Homo sapiens: one gene and its partner. The protein of the gene in region 2 purifies or fractionates together with the protein of the main gene of each other region. This does not show direct contact. Each region holds a gene or a part of one and is shown on either strand. Other genes may lie near its edges.

Region 1 (3,656 bases), on a different chromosome or scaffold from region 2:
ACAAAGTCTCAAAAATTATGGATAATCAGAACCAAAATAATTTAAACCAAAAATTTTTAAGTTAACCTATTAAAAATTGGTTTCTTAATTTCATAGTCTTTAGTAAGTGGCATTAAAATAGAAGAACTTGAAGGTAATTTAATTAAAGCACTATTAGCCAATGCTCCAATATGGAACATTCTGGTTTCTACTTAGTTATTATGAAAACTCTGGAAAAGATTAATAAGTAGATTGTTTAAGGCTTTTCCAGAGATGTATGTTTTATTTACATTTTTGCTGCTGAATTCTCACTTTTTCTGTCCTGCAAACACTGTTTTTAAAAACTCTATTGGCCTCTTTCTAAAGCCTTGTCCAAAAGACAGCTTTCAAGAAGAGATTCTTGAGTGACTGCTCATAGGTATGAGGTTTCTTTTTTGGGTGATGAAAATGTTCTGGAGTTAGGTAGTGGTGATGGTTGCACAACTTTGTGACTATACTAAAAATGTCTGAATTGTACACTTTAAGAGGGTGAATATTGCGGTGTGTGAATTATATAAAAATTTAAAAAACGAGGTTCCCTACATAGTAAACTTCTCTTCAGTAGGGTAAACGAATGCTAAAACTCTGAGACCTCTGTCAGCTGAAGTCATAAGAAAACTGCATATTTGTTGGAAGAAAATAAAGAAATGAAGAGCTGCTAAGCATGAATAAGGACTGTCTCTAGAAATTAAAGGGAAGCTTTTAATAAACACATATTTTTCTCTCCCCGAACTTCCCTCCCCCAAATTCAGGAGTTGGCCGAGGAAAAGATATCTCCACCATCACAGGTCATCGTGGGAAAGACATCTCTACTATTTTGGATGAAGAAAGAAAAGAAAATAAACGACCCCAGAGGGCAGCTGCTGCTCGAAGGAAGAAACGCCGGCGATTAAATGATCTGGACAGTGATAGCAACCTGGATGAAGAAGAGAGCGAGGATGAATTCAAGATCAGTGATGGGTGTGTGGTCTCCTACTAGGCCCCGATCCCTAGATACCAGCAGGAACAGGACTGGGCTAGCAGAGAGGCTTGCCCATGCTGTGATGAGGGTTTTCTTCTTCATGTACATAGACAACCTCTGTTTATTTTCAGGATATTTAAAGCAGATTCAAGAATACTAATTTTGGCCCATTTTTAAAGTTTAGAACAGAAAATAGATTTATGGTTGTTTAACATTCAAAATTGTATTTAAATTTTACTAACTACAATTAAACTTTCATTTGTTGAGAGCTTTCTCTGTACCTCTGTGCCACCTTCTGCCAGGTCCATGAGGGGTTTCCAGTCCTATGTGAAAAATAAATAAGATATTATCCTCTCATGACTCATAGAAGTTGGACTTGGGACTGGTAATCCAGTATAGAAGATCAAGAAAGGCTTCTTTGCAGAGTTGGAATTGAAACAATACTGCAGAGTTTCTCCTTTCAGATTATTAGAAGAGGAAACAAGTATATAAACCACAAAAAAAAAAAAAAGTCATTCTGCATAACTGCTACTAAAATACAGGGAAAGATAAATTAGGCTACAGAGGAAAGTTGGCTTAATCCAAAGAGTAAACCTTAAAGTAGAAGTAAAGCTTGATCTGAAATTTGAAGAATGAGTATTTGGAATCAACAAGTATGAGACTAAAAGCAGGATAAGAAAAAGGTATTCTAAGCATAGAAGTCACATGTCCAAGACAGCAAGCCGTAAAATGTCATAGAATGTTTGGGAAACTCCTGTTGGCTCTGGATAGCAGGAATAAGGGGATGAAGTAGAGAGTGCCCTACTGGAGATGTGGTCAAGTGATAAAAAGAGCCAGATTAGGGAGTGTTTTATTTGTCATGCATAAGTGTTTTGACTTTATCCTGAAAATTATACAAAACCAGTGAAGGGTTTTAAACACTAAATTAATATGAGATTTATGCTTCAGAAAGATTCATCCTGGCATTCATTTGGAGGATAGATTGAGGGGAAATGAGACCAGATATTAGAGAAACTATTTGTGGAGTTGCTTTTGTAGTTAAGGTGAGTATGAAAAGCTGAAAACAGAAGAGATCAGGTTTGAGAGATTATCTTTTAAGAGGTAGACTCTAGAGAAATTATTAATTTATTGGATATGAGAAATGAAAAGGGGAAAGTTAGGATAAATACCACGTTTCTGGTTGGAGTTACCGGATGAGTGATGGTGCCAAATACCAGGCCAGGGAACAGAAGAGAGAAGTAGATTGGGAAATAATGAATTCACTTTTGAATATGTCGAATTTAACATGGGGGACATCCCAAGAGGTCAAAGCAGTACAGAAATCAACATTAATTCATCTTTACAACCCCTCCTAAGAGGATAGGTGGCAAAACATTTTCCCCATTTTATAAATAGGGCATTTGATACAATTATCCAGATATGTTGCACTATACTTAATGATTCACTGGGCTCACCAGAATTTGAACTCAGAACTCTTAAAAATGGGTTCACTCTTCTAAATACCATTGTATTTTATCTGATTTCTCTTGGACAGATCTCAAGATGAGTTTGTTGTGTCTGATGAAAACCCAGATGAAAGTGAAGAAGATCCGCCATCTAATGATGACAGTGACACTGACTTTTGTAGCCGTAGACTGAGGCGACACCCCTCTCGGCCAATGAGGCAGAGCAGGCGTTTGCGAAGAAAGACCCCAAAGAAAAAATATTCCGATGATGATGAAGAGGAGGAATCTGAGGAGAATAGTAGAGACTCTGGTAAAAATAATCTGTAACCATATGGTAGCTCAATAAATTATTTTTTGTTTTTCTTGTTGCTCATGCTGGAGTGCAATGGCACCATCTCGGCTCACTGCAACCTCTGTGTCCCGGGTTCAAGCGATTCTCCTACCTCAGCCTCCCAAGTAGCTGGGATTACAGGCATGTGCCACCATGCCTGGCTAATTTTGTATTTTTAGTAGAGAGGGAGTTTCTCCATGTTGGCCAGGCTGGTCTCAAACTCCCGACCTCAGGTGATCTGCCCACCTCAGCCTCCCAAAGTGCTGGGATTACAGGCGTGAGCCAGCACGCTGGCCAGCTCAACAAATTCTTATGACTTCTGGAGTTAAGAGTTCTTAAAATTCTGTTCTTAAGACTTATTTCTGACTAAATTTTTCTCATAGAAAGCACATCTGAGAAAATACATACTGATTGATACGTTAACTTCATATCAGATGCCTAGTAGGATTGTGATGACTCCTTGGTTGTCAAATGTTTCCACTCCTAAACCTTCATCTTCATAGGGTTTCTTGGAAATCATTCTCAATAAACTGTGAACATTTCCCTCAGATGCCCAGCTGTTGGAGAGAGAAGAATACAAGTTAACTCTCATTTAGACCACAGTCAGTGTTGAGTAGTTTTTACAGATTAACAGTAGTTGATGTTGTTATAGAGTATGCTTATCCCTATTAAGTGAGTAAATAGAGGCTCAACCGCTACAAGAAATGAATGCTTTATGTAATTGGCAAATTGATAGGTGTCATCTTATTAGAGAAGAACCATAGATATGAGTATCAGACTCTGGCCATCCTTGTGGGTTTTTTTTGGTTTTATTTATCTTTTTTCCTAAACCATCTAAATAAGTGATGATAATATCATGCCCCTTTATCAGTGATTATTTCCTAAGGACAAGGACATTTTC
Region 2 (2,547 bases):
GTCTCTACTAAAAATACAAAAAATTAGCCGGGCATGGTGGCGGGCATCTGTAGTCCCAGCTATTTGGGAGGCTGAGGCAGGAGAATGGCGTAAACCAGGAGGCGGAGCTTGCAGTGAGCAGAGATCGTGCCACTGCACTCCAGCCTGGGCGACAAAGCAAGACTCCATCTCAAAAAAAAAAAAAAAAAAAAAAAAACTGGGATTTTTATTTGGGGTGGTGAGTGGATGGGTATAGGTAGTACAGACTGAGTATTCCTAATCCGAAGCTTTTGAGCATCGACATGACCCTCAAAGGAAATGCTCTTTGGAGAATTTCAGATTTTGGATTCTTAGATAGGGATGCTCAACTGGGTAAGTAAATGTAATGCAAATATTCCAGAATCCAAAAAAATTTCCAAATCTGAAACATTTCTGGTCCAAAGCATTTCAGTTGAGGACTACTCAACCTGGATGACAAAAGAGAGTTGGTGTGATTCTTTGCTTAGAAAGTTTAGAGTAATGATAAAATGGTTAACTTCACTAGCTTTTTACTTGGGGCAGTTAGGAAAACAGAATTATCTTTGACTATATAACATTGCTAAAGAAAAGATTACTTCATTAAAGAAAAATACTCAGATTTAGGGTAGTGGGTAGGGGGGATTCAATTTTTAAAAAACAGAAGAATGAGTTTATCTCCAAAGATTAAAATGGAAACAAATACGAGGAACAGGAGATTTTTAAAACATGTCTTGACTGTATAATCAAGTTTTCCTCACTTAAAAGTCTGGTTCAAGATTACTTTTGACAGAATCACTACAGTCATTCTCCTTTGCTCCCTGATTTCAGTATGCACTTTTCTTTGTTTTGTATTTTGTAACATTCCCTGGTCCCTTCTCTATGACAATAACTTTCCAAAAAATGCTAATGTAACTTTAAGTCACAATAATATAGATACATATTTTAGTATAAGGGAGGTAGTAGTTCTTCAGCATACTGCATGATTAGCTGTCTTCTAAAGGATTTATTCAGTTTTCGAGCTCACTTTTTATGGGACATTGAAAGATTGGTAAGGAGTATAGAATAGAATGTTTGGCTTACAGAAGGAAAAACTATGTGAGGAAGGAACTCATGGCACTTACCTTCATAGAACTGAAGGATTGTCAAGTAAAGGTAAGATTGAATTACAGTGTAGCACCATAGAAGAGCTTTTATTCCATCACATGGAAGAAATAGTGCCATTCAACAACAGAACGTGCAGTGTGTTTTTTGTTTGTTTTGTCATTGGAAATGATAAAGTAAAAACCGGTTGATTACCTGTCAGAAATTGTTGAGAGGATTCCTACTTTAAGCAAGAGGTTAAACTAGGTGCCCTCTAAAAGTTTCTTTTCAAAGATTCATTGAGCCCAAACACATTTTCTAATTTTGCTTTGAAATCCAATAAAGCTAATTTAATATCCAAAATGAAATACTCTTATAACTTTGATATTTTGGGTAGAGGTTAACCTGCCCATCTTTCCTACTAATAATGTACATCTTTTTTAAAGTTTGTTTTTGTTTTCTTCAAATAGGGCACCATAAAACAAGCTTACACGAGTGCTCCAATGGTAGACAATGAATTACTTCGATTGAGTCTTCGGTTATTTAAGCGGAAGACTACTTGCCATGCTCCAGGACATGAAAAGACTGAAGATAATAAACTTTCACAGTCCAGTATCCAACAGGAACTGTGTGTGTCTTAAGACCGAAGTTCAATATGGTATTTTTGGTACTGTCTTCCTTCAGCAGTGCATATTCTTTTGCAAAGTTCTTTGGTTTGACAAGCATTAGTGACAAAGGCAGAAAAGATTTATCAGCCATGCTAAAAGAGTGAAGAATTTTGATCTTTAGAGACACTAGTTTTGGCCAACTTAAGATTTTACGTTAATTTTTACATAGTATTTGACACTCATGCAAAATAATGTGAAAACATCTAGATTTAGTAGTTTATTCTGCGCCTTTTGTTAAAACTGAAGATTTTGGAAAATGGTTGTCACTGCTCTTCCAGCCTATGAATATTTTTGTGAAATGGAACCATGGATTTATGTCTGGATCATCCATACAGAACCAACAATTTTATTCAAAAACAATGTGTTCATCAAAGTAATTGCTCACATTGTGCAGTACTATGTTGTACAGACCACGTGAAAGGGAATGCTGGTCTAGCTGGCGTGGTATGTTTATAGGCGAATTTCAGCAGAAGGAAGCCAAAATAGTTTTTTCCTTTTGAAAGTTTTTTAAAAATTATTTCATGGGTCTTTTTTTTAATTAATATGTGTGCATTGTTACAATGTATGTTGGATGTCTTTTGACCCTAAATGCTTTTTTTGTTATCAGAGATTGTGTACTATTTTTATTTTTAATAAATGTATCTTCCCTTTCCTTGTTTTAGATTTACTTTGCTCTTCGTTAATCTTATTCCTGATGATCTAGAACATTAGTCATCAACATTACATGTTTCATGCTTCAGATATTTTACTGCTTGTGTCCTTATTGTTGGACAGCTTTAAACAGAGTTGATGTACTTCAAAT

The links. Proteins that work in one complex are often made in the same cells at the same time.
Region 1: the proteins of ZC3H13 (region 2) and RSF1 fractionate together in Homo sapiens (co-fractionation; one large-scale study listed by BioGRID). This does not show direct contact.

What each region holds. Positions count from the first base shown.
Region 1 is NC_000011.10:77,674,114-77,677,769, reverse strand, and holds part of RSF1 (remodeling and spacing factor 1), read left to right. Parts: intron 1-770; coding exon 771-978; intron 979-2,513; coding exon 2,514-2,734; intron 2,735-3,656. UniProt on the Homo sapiens protein: Regulatory subunit of the ATP-dependent RSF-1 and RSF-5 ISWI chromatin-remodeling complexes, which form ordered nucleosome arrays on chromatin and facilitate access to DNA during DNA-templated processes such as DNA replication, transcription, and repair.
Region 2 is NC_000013.11:45,956,298-45,958,844, reverse strand, and holds part of ZC3H13 (zinc finger CCCH domain-containing protein 13), read left to right. Parts: intron 1-1,547; coding exon 1,548-1,718; 3' UTR 1,719-2,547. UniProt on the Homo sapiens protein: Associated component of the WMM complex, a complex that mediates N6-methyladenosine (m6A) methylation of RNAs, a modification that plays a role in the efficiency of mRNA splicing and RNA processing.